Linked DNA regions of Homo sapiens: region 1 is linked to region 2. Evidence: fine-mapped expression QTL. A gene starts in region 2. The other region holds a variant in brackets. All regions are shown on one strand. Distances are from middle to middle.

Region 1 (8,000 bases), 29 kb before region 2:
GGAAGATAGACCGACTATAGGCTGAGTAGCCAGTGTCTGTGATCATTCCTTGAATGATCTACAGTAGAATTTTTTATGGCATTTTCCCTCTTTATTAAAAAATATTTAATTTTGGCCAGGTGCAATGGCTCATGCCTGTAATCCCAGCACTTTGCAAGGCCAAGGCAGGCAGATCACTTGAATCCAGGAGTTAAAGATCAGCCTGGGCAACATGGCGAGACTCCATCTCTACAAAAAGTATAAAAATTTGCCAGGTGTGGTGGCATGTGTCTATAGTCCAGCTACTCGGGAGGCTAAGGTGGGAGGATTGCTTGAGACTGGGAAGTTGAGGCTGCAGCAAGACCTTGTTTAAAAAAAAAATTTTTTTTTTTTTTTTTTTTTGAGACAGTCTTGCTCTGTCACCTACGCTGGAGTGCAGTGGTGCCATCTTGGCTCACTGCAACCTCTGCCTCCCAGGTTGAAGCAATTCTTGTGCTTCAGCCTCCCAAGTAGCTGGGATTACAGGCCTGCACCACCAAATCTGGCTAATTTTTGTATTTTTTGTAGAGAGGAGGTTTCACCATGTTGCCCAGTTTGGTCTTCAACTCTTGGGATCAAGTGATCGGCCTTTCTTGGCCTTCCAGAGTGCTGGGATTATAGATGTGAGCCACTGCACTGAGCCCTTCCTCATACTTATAAACTTTAAAAAAAATTATTCACCGGGCGCGGTGGCTCACGCCTGTAATCCCAGCACTTTGTGAGGCTGAGGCGGGCAGATCATAAGGTCAGGAGATGAGGCCATCCTGGCTAACACGGTGAAACCCTGTCTCTACTAAAAATACAAAAAATTAGCCAGGTATGGTGGCACATGCCTGTAATCCCAGCTACTCGGGAGGCTGAAGCAGGAAAATCACTTGAACCCGGGAGGTGAAGGTTGCAGTGAGCCAAGGTCGCGCCCCTGCACAACAGCCCAGGCAACAGAGCGAGACTCCATCCCCCCAAAAAAAAAAAAAAAAGAAATTACTAATTTATTATTTTTTAGCATTGAGGTTTCTGTCACCTAGGCTGGAGTGCATTGGTGCAATCAGCCCACTGCAGCCTTCAACTCCAGGGCTCAAGTTACTTTCCTGCCTCAACCTCCCAAGTGGAGCTGGGACTAGAGGCATGAGTCACCGTGCCTGGCCCCAGTGTTTTTTTTTTTTTTTTTCTTGAGACAGAGTCTCACTCTGTTGCCCATGCTGGAGTACTGTGGTGTGACACTCTTGGCTCACTGCAACCTCCTTCTCCTGGGTTCAAGTGATTCTCCTGCCTCAGCCTCCTGAGTAGCTAGCTGGGACTATAGGCATGTGCCACCATGCCCGGCTAATTTTTTGTATTTTTAGTAGAGACGGAGTTTCACCATCTTGGCCGGGTTGGTCTTGAACTCCTGACCTCGTGATCCACCCGCCTCGGCCTCCCAAAGTACTGGGATTACAGGTGTGAGCTACCGCGCCCGGCTACAGATGACTGATTTTATCTCAAACAATGAATAACAATCATAAACGATATTTATTTGTGTGCCAGGCATTGCACTATATAATTTACTGCTTTTTTTTTTTTTTGAGACGGAGTCTCGCTCTTGTTGCCCATGCTGGAGTGCAATGGCGCGATCCTGGTTAACTGCAACCTCCGCCTCCTGGGTTCAAGTGATTCTCCTGCCTCAGCCTCCTGAGTAGCTAGCTGGGACTATAGGCATGTGCCACCATGCCCGGCTAATTTTTTGTATGATTAGTAGAGACAGGGTTTCAGCATGTTAGCCAGGATGGTCTTGATCTCCTGACCTCGTGATCTGCCCCTCTCAACCTCCCAAAGTGCTGGGATTACAGGCGTGAGCCACTGCTCCTGGCGTGGCCCCAACTTTGTAAACATATATGGGATTATAATATAATTACTACTGCTCTATAACCTACATTTTTGTTTTCTTTTTTTTTTTTTTTTTGAGATGGAGTTTTGCTCTTGATTCCCAGGCTGGAGTGCAATGGCGTGATCTTGGGTCACTGCAACCTTCGCCACCCAGGTTCAAGCGATTCTCCTGCCTCAGCCTCCCAAGTAGTTGGGATTACAGGTGCCCACCACCATGCCTGGCCAATTTTGTATTTTTAGTAGAGACGGGGTGTCTCCATGTTGGTCAGGCTGTTCTCGAACTCCTGACCTCAGGTGATCCGCCTGCCTCTGCCTCCCAAAGTGCTGGGATTACAGGCGTGAGCCACTGCGCCCAACCTGCATTTTTCACTGAATAGAATATTGTCGTCAGTGGATTGTTTATTTATTTATTTTTTATTTCTACACTCCTGGTAACTCACAGAACATTCAGTGGATTTTTGAATGCTGAGTCTGCATATTCTTTCTCTTAGTCTTGTCTAGACCATATTTCCCATTATATTTCACTGCATGCTTTGTGAATGGAAACTCGTTTTTTCAGTATCCTGAGCCAGAATTAGCCAAATAGAAATGACTTTTGTTTTATTTTTTAAATTTTTATTTATTTATTTTTATTTATTTATTTTTTTTGAAACGGAGTCTCACTCTGTTGCCAGGCTGGAGTGCAGTGGCGTAATCCCGGCTCACTGCAACCTCTGCCTCCCGGGTTCAAGCGATTCTCTTGCCTCAGTCTCCTGAGTAGCTGAGATTACAGGCACGCGCCACCACGCCCGGCTAATTTTTGTATTTTTAGTAGAGACAGGGTTTCACTGTATTGGCCAGGATGGTCTCTATCTCTTGACCTTGTGATCCACCAGCTTTGGCTTCCCAAAGTGCTGGAATTACAGGCGTGACCCACTGTCCCCGGCTGTATTTTTTTTTTTTGAGAGAGAGTTGTGCTCTTATTGCCCAGGCTGGAGTATGGTGGCGCGATCTTGGCTCACTGCAACTTCTGCCTCCTGGGTTCCAGCAATTCTCCTGCCTCAGCCTCCCAAGTAGCTGGGATTACAGGCGCACGCCACCACTCCTGGCTAATTTATTATTATTATTATTAGAGATGGGGTTTTGCCATGTTGGCCAGGCTGGTCTTGAACTCTTGGTCTCGAGCGATCCACCTAGCTCGATGTCCCAAAGTGTTGGAATTACAGGCGTGAGCCACTGCGCCCGGCCAGAAATGACTTTTAGATTGCCTGCCCTCTGGAGCCGTCTGACCCTGTTCTTCAGCAGGAGTTACCGTGAGTCCGATTGTTTCCTGAGTAGCAGATGGAGCAGAAGAACTTCATGCCATGCAGGGAAGACTTCCCATATGATAGATGTTTTAATGCAGGTTTGAAAGAAAAGAAGGGATGTAAATTAATCAATAACCGAGATTTTGTTTTTCTGTCTTGTAGCTGGAAAAGGATTTTGGTCTGAGATGCTGGGCGTGGGGGACTTCTATTACGAACTAGGTGTCCAAATTATCGAAGTGTGCCTGGCGCTGAAGCATCGGAATGGAGGTGAGGGTGGCTAGGTCCTGTGAACTGGACTCTGGACTTCTCTGAGAGGGAGAAAACCGTAAAAGATTATCGTTTCCATCCTGCAGTCTACAGGCCTCTAAGGACTTGAGAGACATCTTAGCTGTTTCATGCAGTTGAATCCATGGCAAGTCTCCATGGCCAAGGGTAAATAGAATTACCTGAACGATTGTCTCTGTTCTCCAAAGATCTTTGGCCAGGAAGGTCTAGTCCCTAGTCAGTACAGAAAATAGTAGAGAGGTAGGAAGTAGGCCTTTTCCCCTGATGTCTGATGTGTCTGGAGTGATTTTCTCATTAGTAACTATAGTCCTGCACTGTCTCTCCGACGTATGGGAATGCCAACTGAGTCTGTGTTCCCTAAAATGTGACCTTAAAATTTGTCATCTGGTGATGCCATCTTTCTTAGTAAGCACGTTAAATGGTGTGGATTGAAGTTACAGAAAGAAAACTTAAAACCATTTACAAATCATCATCAACTATAAATAGACACGGCCTTGATGTCAAGAGGACATTTATAGTTTTTCAAAGATGATACTGCTTTTGTTTTTAGATTTTCGTAGCTCTCTGTTGACAGGCCTAGCAAGGTCTCAGAATCCATTTCTCATATTATGGTCAGTTATTTCATAAGGAGAGTGTTAAAAAAAAATTAGGAACTAGAATGTTATTTGCTACTTGTAGGCCACTGGAATTGTAATGACTGTCAACTTATTTAAAGTGGGTAATCTCTTTTTCTGATTTCTGTTCCCTGTCTCCAAACAGGTCTGATAACTTTGGAGGAACTACATCAACAGGTGTTGAAGGGAAGGGGCAAGTTCGCCCAGGATGTCAGTCAGTAGGTCTTGTCTTCCAATCCCTTGGAGTACAGAAAGAGGTCTTTAAAATTCAGATGGAACTCTTTTCTCCCTATTCCTCATGTCTAGGCTAGCTTAGAAATCTGTATGATCTCCATATCATACAGGAAAAAAAAAAACAAAAAACAAACAAAAAATAAGAGATAGGGTCTCACTTTTGCCCGGGCTGGAGTACAGTGGCATGATCACAGCTTACTGCTACCAAGATCATTGCTTACTGCAGCCTCAAACTCTTGGGCTCAAGTAATCCTCCCACCTCAGCCTCCCAAGTAGTTGGGATTATAGGCATGGGCCAGTATGGCTGGCTATTTTTAGAAAACAGAAAATATAGATTTAAAAAAGGAAACAAAAACCATTATTTCTCAATTAAGAGATTACAACTGCTATATATTTTAATGTAGTTCCTTCTAAGCATTTTTTCATGTATTATTTTTTAACAAACTTGGGGCTATATATAGTCTTTTTTTTCTTTGAGAAAGAGTCTTGCTGTCACCCAGGCTGGAGTGCAGTGACCCGATCTTAGCTCACTGCAACCTCTGCCTTCTGGGTTCAAGCAATTCTCGTGCCACAGTCTCCCCAGTAACTGGAATTACAGGTGTGCACCACCATGCCCGGCTAATTTTTTTTTTTTTTTTTT[TG/G]AGACAGAGTCTCACTCTGTCGCCCAGGCTGGAGTGCAGTGGCGTGATCTCTGCTCACTGCAAGCTCTGCCTCCTGGGTTCACGCCATTCTCCTGCCTCAGCCTCCCGAGTAGCTGGGACTACAGGCGCCCGCCACCACGCCCGGCTAATTTTTTGTATTTTTAGTAGAGACGGGGTTTCACTGTGTTAGCCAGGATGGTCTCGATCTCCTGACCTCGTGATCCACCCGCCTCAGCCTCCCAAAGTGCTGGGATTACAGGTGTCTGCCACCGCGCCTGGCCGCCTGGCTAATTTTTGTATTTTTAGTAGTGATGGGGTTTCACGTTGTTGGCCAGGCTGGTTTTGAACTCCTGGCCTCAAGTGATCTGCCTGCCTCAGCTTCCCAAAGTGCTGGGATTACAGGTGTGAGACACCACGGCTGGCCAGGGCTGTATATAGTCGTGAGATTATTTGAGGCCAAGGAGAGTAGTGTAGGTGCCTAGAAAGGCTGGGGAAGGAGGTGGTAGTGAGATGATGGAATATAAATTGATCTAGTTCTCCAGCCTCTATGTGCGAGTCCAGTTTGAGAAAAGATAAAAGGCTGTTTTTGATGTAACTTCCAAAGAGTCAGCCTACTATGAGATCTTGAAGACCTAGAATATTCAAAGAAAAGTAACGAGGCTGGGTGCAATAGCTTACACCTGTAATCCTAGCCCTTTGGGAGGCTGAGGTGGGAGGATCGCTTGAGGACAGGAGTTCGAGACCAGTCTGGGCAGTGTAGTGAGACCTTGTCTCTACAAAAAATAAAATTAGTTGGGTGTTGAGGCATGCACTCATTGTTCTAGGCTGCAGTGAGCTATGATTGCACCACTGCACTCCAGCCTGGGATATAGAGCAAGACGTCATCTCTACTTTTTTTTTTTGTTTTTTGAAATGGACTCTTGCTCTGTTGTCTAGGCTGGAGCGCAGTGGTACAATCTCGGCTCACTGCAACCTCCGCCTCCTGGGTTCAAATGATTCTTCTGCCTCAGCCTCCTGAGTAGCTGGGATTACAGGTACCTGCCACTGGCGCCCTGCTAGTTCTTGTATTTTTAGTGGAGATGGGGTTTCACCATGTTGGCTAGGCTGGTCTCGAACTCTCGGCCTCCCAAAATGCTGGGATTACAGGCGTGAGCCACCGCGCCCAGCCAAGACCTCATCTCCTAAAAAAAAAAAAAAGGAAAGTGATAACAAAAGATTACTAGCCATACTCATTGCAGATTTCATGAAGAGAGGGTGAGCATTTGAAGCATTTCAGTTTGCTATTCTTTGGGGGTTGGAGAATGCATTCCAATCTACCTAAAAGTGCCCTTTCCCTGGCTGTTTGGGTGATAACATTTTTTGAGCTTTGGCAGAGGTTTTAAACTCTGTATGTGGGCTGGATATGTGATCTACACACTGTTTTGTAGGTTTTCTTTTTCTCTGATTTCAATTAGAATCAGAAAACTTGGCAGTATTGGGTTTGAATTGCCACTTGGCAATAATAGTCAGCTGGGTTGCCCCCTTTAAAATAGATAAGCATTCTCTAGTTTGCCACAGGTGACACTACCCCCATTGCCTCTTCAGCTCACTCATTCACATTTCCTGATGGGCATCTGCAGGTGTATCTTTGACCGCTGTCTGGATGTTGGAATGAGTGGTTCGCTGAGCAGACAGCCTGACTCCTGTGTATCTCCCATGATTGTCCAAGCATCACTTATTGCTCCTTGACCCTGTCTTTTTACTGACGTAGTTGAGTGTTGTGCAGCCTTTTATTTTAGAGGCAGGGTCTCGCTCTGTCACCCAGGCTGGAGTACAGTGGTGCACAATCACAGCTCACTGCAGCCTTGAACTCCTGGGCTCAAGTGATCCTCCTGCCTCAGCCTCCCAAGGATTATAGGCGATTGCCACCATGCCCTGCTAATTTTTTATTTTTAGTAAAGATAAGGTCTTGCTGTGTTGCCCAGGCTGGTCTCTAACCCCTGGGCTCAAGCAGTCTTCTCAATGTGGGCATCCCAAAAGTGTTGCGATTATGGGTATGAGCCATTGCGCCTGGCAGTTGTGCAGTCTTCTAAATTTTCTGTCAGTATCCTGCCCAGGGCAGAGCTGAAACTGTGTTGTTAGGTCTGATTCTGCCAAGGGTCGTTAAGCAACTCTTCCTTACCTCAGAGATGACCTGATCAGAGCCATCAAGAAACTAAAGGCACTTGGCACTGGCTTCGGCATCATCCCTGTGGGCGGCACTTACCTCATTCAGTCTGTTCCAGCTGAGCTCAATATGGATCACACCGTGGTGCTGCAGCTGGCAGAGGTACTGGTGCACCTTCGAGTGTGTGTGTGTGCAAGGGACAGTCTGTGAGGCAAGTCTGGAGCAGTTCTCAGCTCGTGCTCCCCATTATGCAGGTCTTTTGCTGAGACTATCCAGTGGATGAACTACTCAGGCCTGTGCTTGTTCAGCAGACATTTATTGAGCAGCTACAGTGCAAAGCACTGGGCCAGGCTGTGGGGCATATAAAGATGATAAAATTCCTGCTCTCAAGGAGCTTACAGTCTAGTCAGGTAGACAGACATGCAGACAACTAACTAGATTTCTTTGGGTAGCCAGACTCTTTGATGTCTTTTGAAACTACTTTATGGATTCTTCAAAAACAGATTTTAAAAAATCTTGTTTGCCATGCCCCCATCCCTCATCATGCCTTAAGCATATGCCATCTTCCCCCAAATCCCCATCAGGTATTTAGATGTGTTCAGTTTTATTATTTTTGAGATGGAGTTTCACTCGTTGCCTAGGCCAGAGTGCAATGGCGTGATCTCAGCTCACTACAATGTCAGCCTCCCGGGTTCAAGTGATTCTCCTGCCTCAGCCTCCCGAGTAGCTGGGATTACAGGTGTGTGCCACCACGCCCAGCTAATTTTGTATTTTTAGTAGAGATGGGGTTTCTCCATGTTGGCCAGGCCTGAGTTTGGTCTCGAACTCCCGACCTCAGGTGATCCACCCACCTTAGCCTCTCTAAGTGCTGGGATTACAGGGGTGAGCCACCGCACCCGGCCCAGTTTCCTTT
Region 2 (8,449 bases):
GGTCTGCTAAGCATTTGAACAGCAAAAGGAAAGGGACGTGGCAATCCAATGCCTAAGTCTATAGTTCCCACCTTGCCCTCCTGGCAAGACCCTACGTCATATTCTGGCTCTCAGTCATTTGGAATAGTAAACTCAACTGGTCTCAACATGGCATCAACTCTGGGACCCCAGGTACTAGGCTATTAACACTGGTACTTGACTGAGGACGAGATGTCCTAGGAAAAACATTTCTAACTACATAAAAAAAAAATATGAAGGGAAATCTATTCAAAACAACAAAAAAAGATACACCAACAATACAAAATCTGAATTTTTACTGTAAGAAATTTACTGTAAGAAAACTATGTGTTTCACTTAAACAGCATTAGGTTTAGGAAATATGATTTCTTTCTAACATCAGTTTAAGTGCAACTGCACTTCTGTGGGTAGAGCATTCAGTGACAGAGAAACCTAGGTATCTATGCCAGAGAAATGTGACATTATGTATTAAGCTTTCTCTCTGAGAGGAGGACAAGAGAGGTATAGTCTTTGGGGTGGAAGGGATACTTAAACGCAACCAGTAAGGACAGGATCCTGAGCAAAGTCCTTTAACCACAAACACTTCAGTCAAGCTTGCCCTATTCCCAACCTTCCCTACATCTGATTTATAGTACCATAGCATAGTTAATGTCAAGAGTAACGGGATGGGGGAAGAGCTGGGTAGTACAATGGATAGGGTGACCATATAATTTATTATCCAAACAGGAGCATTTTTGAGAGTGAAAGAATGCCCTATAAATAGTCAAGCTGCGACAACAGACATGAACTGGGATTTTCCAAGCCAATCAGTACCTATGGGGTACACTAATAACAGACACCTCTTCAAAGTGCTGCTCCACCTCACTATGTGACCTTGGACAAGCCACTTACTCTCCTGGGGTCTTGATTTCTTCATCTGTGTAATCGGAGAGGTGAGCTGAATAATCTCTTTTAGGCTTTTGCAACCTTATGGCCCCCAATTTCCCAAAACCCCCCAAACCCCCATCAAGTTACATACCTTAGTCATGTCAACAGTATCAGGTACAACGAACATTCCTGGAGGAGGCTCCTTATAAATGGACATGATATCCCTGTATAACACCAAGAGGAGGTGGGGGAAGGAGTGAGGAAGAGGGGGAAAGGGGGAATCCCTTGAGCAGGACAGTTGTTATCACCTCAATGAGGCCAGGGTTTGAGAAAGTGGTGCTTGGTACCGCAAGTGTTTGTACTGTCTTGTTGGCTGAGAAATCTCAGCTGAGTACTTGTCAGGCAGGCAGAGAGCAAATTATTATCAAAAGGGCATTGTTTCCTCAGGGGGAGGGGAGGGAGAGAGGAAAAAAATCAGAGATCCCAATGGCATCAAATGTCAGCCTGGAAAAGCCACTTTCCACTTACTCTCACTTCCTCCCACATGGCAATTCATTCACTCCCCACCTCCATGATTCCCAGGTACTACGACTGAATGCTAAATGAAGATTTTTTAGTAACTGGAAAGGCATCATCAACTCCACTAAAAAACTAATTCTATAAACTATACAGTGGACCTTTATTGGTAAGGGGATTGTATGAAGCAAGCCAGCCAGCAGAGAGTAAGACTATCATGGTGGCCTTCTTGCCCAGGGGTGTCTCAGGGTAGAGATCTCTTCAGGCTGGGGAGGGATCCTCAGAAATTGCTAAGAATCTCCCATCTGGAAGATGACATGTGGACTTCCATAGGAGATAAGATTTCTGACTCATATCTCACCAACTGGAATGGATCAGTTGAGAGCAAGGGGCTAAAGAACATTCTAGGTGGCGAAAAGCCTAGGGACTTGCTAGGGTGGGTAGGGACATAAAAAGGGCAAATAGGCGACAAAGCAGAGGAAAGCATTGGCCAAACTCAAAGGTATGTCAGAATTGGATGACTGAAATGGCTGGAGGAGGAAAAGAGTTGAGTGCTGAGTTTCAGTTAGAGGTGGCAATCCCTCCACAGTTGACCTCCTGTGTCAGGCACTGTGCCAGGTACTTTACACACATTATATTAATTTTTATTACAACCTTGAAAAGTAGACACAGAGACATCTGAAAGGACGTGGAACATGGGGAATAAGAACTAAACGAAGATGCTTGTGATGGGGGCATGGGGAGAAGTCAAACAGGTTTCAGGATTAATAGCTAAAGAGCACTGCCCTTTTCTTATGCGATAGGTACTATTCTATGTGCTTCTGGAAAACATCATCTACTAAATGATAGGATCTAAGATCAGTCACCCAAGAAATAAGCACAGAAAGGACTTAGGCCTTTGTTCCTATATTTGATGAGTATATTTGCTTCATAGAAGTAAAACAGACGACCCGGGGAGGGTGGGGGGTGGGGGGAGGGAAATTACAAGAAAGAAGCTCCTGAGTGGGATATTACAATCCAGAGTGGCACTGGGGAATTGGGGGGAGGTAGCCTGTGTTTCTGGAAGAGGCGTAAGAGTGGACAGCTTTGGGACACTGGAAAAGGGGTTCAAGGAAAGATTGGGGCGAGGGAAGCGATCTAGACCTGGGAAAAGACTGTGTGGAGGGAATCTGAGAAAAACGGAGGATAAAAAGAAAGGTTGGCTCGAGTCAGAGGCATGGCAAAGGAAGCTGAGTTCGTCTGTGTTAGGAACGGGGCTCCAGAGGAGAAGAGAGGGGACCGATGGGTGGGGCCTGCGGGCAGCATCTAGCAAGGTTGGGGTGGGGAAGGGGAAATAGGGGCGGCGCCGAAGGCGGGAGGGGGCGTTACTGAAGCGCTAAAGGGTCGGGTTTCCACCCGGAGGTGGGAGGTGTGGGGGAGGGTGGCCGGAATGGAGACGGAGGGCTCACGGGAGGTTGTCGAGGGGCGGGGTCGGATCTGGGCACACGAGGCGGGGGTTGGTGCTTGCGGGTCTGAGGGTGGGGGGAGAAGGGAGTTGGATCCCGACGCCCGGAGCTGGCAAGATTTGGGCCGTGGAGGTGGGCCGCCGCGAGGGCAGCGCAGTGGGTGGGGGGTGAGTTGTAGTGGGAGAGGGTGGGGGGCGGGGAAGGTCGAGCCCCGGAGCTCGGGGCTGGGGGAGGAAAAACCCCGGCTCACCGCTTGATCCGGAGTAGACACTGCGGCGCGGTGCGCTCGCCGTCCCAGTCGGAGCTGAGCGTGGGGTCCCAGTGGCTAAGCAGCGCGGCCCCGTGGGCAGCGGCTGAGGGCGGGAGCCCGGGCAGCGGAGCCAGGCCGCTCCCCGGGCCCCCGGCCCCGCCCGCTGCCGCCGCCGCCGCCCACACATCCGGCAGGAAAGGCGGCCCGAACCCGCCGCCGCTGCCGCTAACGCCAACAACACCAGCAACGCTGCTCGCCCCGGGGCCCGCCGCCCCGGCGCCCGCCGTTGCCGCCTCCTCAGTCGGACTCTCCGCCATCGCTGCTTCGCTTCCGGGACTACTCGGCAGCACGTCCGCCGACCAGAGCGGCCGCTGCTCCCGCCCGCTCCCGCACCACCGAGAACCGGGCCAGAGTGTCCCCACCCCCTCCGCTTCCACAGCCCAGACGGTGCTGGCTCCGCCCACCCCCGCCCCAACCAGCGAGAGGCGCTCTGCAAGAGCGTCCACCTACGGTCCTCCAGGACGGGAGGGGTGGGAACTAGCAGGCCGTGATGGTTCTGGGCTCGTGTGGGTCCTGCGCTGTGCGGAAGTAGCGGAGAGCCCAATTCAAGTGTTGAAAGGGGAGAAGAGAGGAGGGAGTGGGGGAGGAAGGGCCATATCATTCCCGTTAATGGCGGCGACCCTCAGACGTCTGCATGGTTAGGATTGGGGATCCAGCATCCTCATGGGAAGCTCAGTAGAGAAGTTGACTCGCTTTGGGCCCCTTCTCTCGGAAAGGCTCTGCGATTGATCCCTCCTGCACACTTGTGCACCTAGGGCAGGGTACCATTGCCCTTGCCTGCAACAGGACCAAGAGAGAACTCAACTTGGAATGAAAAGCTACCTCTTTTAGAGTTTATTCAACATATATTTATGAAGGGCCTACTAAATGCCAGTCACTGTTGCTAGTTGTTGCCATGGGGATAATGAAACAGAACTAGAGAAGCTTGGTGAAAGGAAGAAACATCAGGCCTCCTGACTCCAAGCTTAGTACTTTTTCTTCCCACAAATCTTGGAATATACAGGAATCGAGGTACTGTGAGTGTAAACCCTGAGGATTCTTTGGGTCTTTCCTAAAATGTTTAAAGTGAAAAATAATCTGCCAGGCTCGGTGGCTCACGCCTGTAATCCCAGCACTTTGGGAGGCCGAGGTGGGCGAATCACGAGGTTAGGAGTTCGAGACCAGCCTAACATGGTGAAACCCCGCCTCTATTAAAAATACAAAAATTAGCCGGGCGTGGTGGCGTGCACCTGTAGTCCCAGCTACTCAGGAGGCTTAGGCAGGTGGATCACTTGAACCCGGGAGGCGGAGTTTGCAGTGAGTTGAGATCACGCCACTGCACTCCAGCCTGGGCGACAGAGCCAGACTCCGTCTCAAAAAAAAAAAAAAAAATTCCTATGGACTAAGAATGACAGGGGCCTTCCTAAAAAACTGTTTTTCCTTGCCGGGCGCGGTGGCTCATGCCTGTAATCCCAGCACTTTGGGAGGCTGAGGCGGGCGGATCACTAGGTCAGGAGATCAAGACCATCCTGGCTAACACTGTGAAACCCCGTCTCTACTAAAAATACAAAAAATTAGCCGGGCGTGGTGGCGGGCGCCTGTAGTCCCAGCTACTCGGAAGGCTGAGGCAGGAGAATGGCGTGAACCCGGGAGGCGGAGCTTGCAGTGGGCGGAGATCGTGCCACTGCACTCCAGCCTGGGCGACAGAGCAAGACTCCGTCTCAAAACAAAAACAAAAACTTTTTTCCCTAGCAAAAATATAGGATCAATATTAACTGGAAACCAGTGGGGCCAGATGTATTTCAGACTTTGGAATGACACACCAAGCAAGGAGTGGGGCAGCGCCGGGTAGCCAAACCTATTGACATTTCTGCATCAAAGTGTATGAACATTCGTACCAAGTCAAATGAATAGCCTCACTTTGGATGTTTTGCCACCAAGTTTGGTTTTTTAAAAAAGAAGTCTGGGCCGGGCACGGTGGCTCACGTCTGTAATCCCAACAATTTGGGAGGCCGAGGTGGGTGGATCACCTGAGGTAAGGAGTTCGAGACCAGCTTGACCAATATGGTGAAACCCCGTCTCTACTAAAAATACAAAAATTAGCCGGGTGTGTTGGCAGGCGCCTGTAGTCCCAACTACTCAGGAGGCTGAGACAGAAGAATCACTTGAACCCGGGAAGGAGAAGTTGCAGTGAGCCGAGACTGAGTCACTGCACTCCATCCTGGGTAAAAGAGTGAGACTCCGTCTCAAAAAAAAGAGTCTGGCTTTAGAGTTTTTTTGTTTTTTGTTTTTTGTTTTTAAAGAGGGAATCTTGCTCTTGTCACGCAGGCTGGAGTGCAATGGCGCAATCGTGGCTCACTGCAATCTCCGCCTCCTGGGTTCAAACAATTCTCCTGCCTCAGCCTCCCCAGTAGCTGAGATTACAAGCATGCCTCTATGCCTGGCTAATTTTTTGTATTTTTTTAGTAGAGGCGCCTCTACGCCTGGCTAATTTTTTGTATTTTTTTAGTAGAGGCGAGGTTTCACCATGTTGGCCAGGAAGGTCTCCAACTCCTTTTGGAGTTGGATCAAGTCATCCGCCCTTCTCGGTCTCCCAAAGTGCTGGGATTACAGAAGTCATCCACCCACCCCACCCTTCCTGCCTTTTAGAGTTTTATGAATTTACAGTAATGGAATGCAGACCTGAAGGATAATGACCAAGATTTATGGAGAGCTAAAGATTGATTTGTTTTGAGACAGGGTCTTGCTCTGTCACCCAGACTGGAGTGCAGTGATGGGATCACAACTCACTGCAACCTCTGCCTCAGCCCTCCAAGTAGCTGGGATTACAGACACGTGCCACGATGCCCGGCTAATTTTTGTATTTTTCTGTAGAAGCGAGGTTTCACCATGTTGCCCAGGTTGGTCTCGAACTTCTGGGCTCAAGCAGTCCTTCCGCCTTGGCCTCCTAAAGTGCTCGGGATTACAGGCGTCAGCCACCGTGCTTGGCCTAAAAAATTATTTTTTTAGCAGACATTTATTGAGTGTTTAATATGTGGCAGGCATTTTGTATACTTTGGCTTTATTCCTTTCAACACTCAGTGAAGTAGTAGGTACTATTATTTATTTATTTTTATTTTTTTTTTGGTTTGGAGTCTTGCTCTGTCGCCCAGGCTGGAGTGCAGTGGCGCGATCTCGGCTCACTGCAAGCTCCACCTCCAAGGTTTACACCATTCTCCTGCCCTAGCCTCCCAAGTAGCTGGACTACAGGCGCCCACCACCACGCCTGGCTAATTTTTTATATTTTTTGTAGAGATGGGGTTTCACTGTGTTAGCCAGGATGGTCTTGAACTCCTGACCTTATGATCCATCCGCCTTGGCCTCCCAAAGTGCTGGGATTACAGGCGTAAGCCACCGCACCTGGCCTTAGGTACTATTATTAATCTGGTCTGATAGATGGAAAAACAGACTTACAGAGGTTCAGTGAATTACATGGGGTCATGCTGAGAGCAAGTCGCATAATTGGGACTGTAAACCAAATCTGACTTCTGAGAACAAGTGCTAACCACTACGTGACACTCCCACACTTATATTTTACCTTGTACTAATTATGGTCCCTTGGTACCTGTTGCCCCCACCCCCCCCCCTTTTTTTTTTCTGTGAGAGGGAGTCTTGCTCTGTCACCCAGACTGGAGTGCGGTGGCCTGATCTCAGCTCACTGCAACCCTGCCTCCCAGTTTCAAGGGATTCTTGTGCCTCAGCCTCCTGAGTAGTTGGGACTACACCACGTCCGGCTAATTTTGTATTTTCAGTAATTCCTACCTCTCAAAGTTTCCCAGAGGATTAACTATGACATTTCCAGAAGTTTTTGTAAAGTGTGGGCCACCATGCCCAGCTGCTTTTTATATTTTTAATAGAGACTGGGTTTCGCCCTGTTGGCCATGCTGGTCTCGAACTCCTAATCTCAAGTGATCCACCCCACTCAGCCTCCCAAGTGCTGGGATTACAGGTATAAGCATCCCCATCCCCTCTTAACACACATACGCACACAACGTGTACACCCTTGGGGCTCTAGACAATGTATTATATGTGAATCCAGCACAGGGCATGGCACAGCTTAGGCGCAACATGAAATGAAATGAATCAATATAGTATTTTATGCAGATTTTGCGTTTTGTTGGTATAGTGTTTTATCAGCATAATAAAGATGCCAGAATATCTATAAAAGGATACACAAGGCCGGGAGTGGTGGCTCATCCTGTACTCCCAGTACTTTGGGAGGCTGAGGTGGATCACCTGAGGTCAGGAGTTCGAGACCAGCCTAGCCAACATGGTGAAACCTCGTCTAAACTAAAAATACAAAAATTAGCTGGTCATGGCAGCAGGCGCCTGTAATCCCAGCTACTCCTGCTGAGGCAGGAGAATTGCTTGAACTTGGGAGGCAGAGGTTGCAGTGAGCTGAGATCGTGTTGTTTCACTCCAACCTGGGCAACAGAGTGAGACTGTCTCAAAAAAAAAAAAAAAAAAAGAGGATACCCAAGAAAATGTTAACAGTGGTTGCCAGCTGGGTGCGGTGGCTCATGCCTGTAATCCCAGCACTTTGGGAGGCTGAAGTGGGTGGATCATGAGGTCAAGAGATCGAGACCATCCTGGCCAACATGGTGAAACCCCATCTCTACTAAAAATACAAAAATTAGCTGGGCGTGGTGGCACGCGCCTGTAGTCCCAGCAACTCGGGAGGCTGAAGCAGGAGAATTGCTTGAACCCGGGAGGTGGAGGTTGCAGTGAGCTGAGATTGCAAAGCGCATGCCTATAATCCCAGCACTTTGGGAGGCTGAGGTGCACGGATCACTTGAGGTCAGGAGTTTGAGACCAGCCTGGCCAACATGGTGAAACCCCATCTCTACTAAAAATACAAAAATTAGCTGGGCGTGGTGGTGGGCACCTGTAATCCCAGCTACTTGGGAGGCTGAGGCAGGAGAATCACTTGAGCCCGGGAGGTAACACGCCACTGCACTCCAGCCTGGGCAACAGAGGGAGACTATGTCTCAAAAAAAAAAAAAAAAAAAAAAAGGACTCCAGAATTTTGCTTGATTATTATTTATTCAGTAAGGTGGTCAAAGGTCAGTTTGCTTGGTAACCTCATACAAAGAAAAACACTATTCCATAGCTCCTCCATAGCTACAGAATACAAAGGCCCAGAGGTGGCCCATGGGGTGAGGGGATTCCTCAGTGTATCTCACCACTGGACCATTATTTTCAAGTACAAGGTCTGGTAGTGATGGGGCAATGAACAGAAAACCCTTACCTTAGATTTAGATGGAGGTTCAGGTTT

Which allele goes with the higher level. Alleles are on the strand shown, and positions count from the first base shown. SD is a standard deviation of normalised expression in the study named.
For the expression in monocytes of the gene that starts at base 3,510 in region 2, allele G in region 1 goes with a higher level than allele TG (moderate effect, 0.65 SD a copy in Fairfax 2014).

The links. PIP is the estimated chance that this variant, and not a neighbour inherited with it, causes the effect.
Region 1: its variant is fine-mapped to the expression of UBE2Z in monocytes (Fairfax 2014, PIP 0.95).

Annotation. Positions count from the first base shown.
Region 1 is chr17:48,932,454-48,940,453 of GRCh38, reverse strand. It overlaps SNF8 (SNF8 subunit of ESCRT-II), which reads left to right. Exons shown (of 8, transcript NM_007241.4): 4 at 3,330-3,434; 5 at 4,212-4,284; 6 at 7,108-7,249. Among named protein-coding and RNA genes, the nearest start is that of SNF8, 8.4 kb to the left of the region's middle. The variant TG/G (reference allele first, on the strand shown) is at 4,941.
Region 2 is chr17:48,903,468-48,911,916 of GRCh38, reverse strand. It overlaps UBE2Z (ubiquitin conjugating enzyme E2 Z), which reads right to left and starts at 3,510. Exons shown (of 7, transcript NM_023079.5): 1 at 3,097-3,510; 2 at 1,037-1,109. The coding sequence starts at 3,413. LOC105371814 (a long non-coding RNA gene) reads left to right here and starts at 2,934. Exons shown (of 4, transcript NR_135674.1): 1 at 2,934-2,978. RefSeq lists enhancers at 1,729-1,778, 1,799-1,848 and silencers at 2,722-2,851, 3,122-3,371.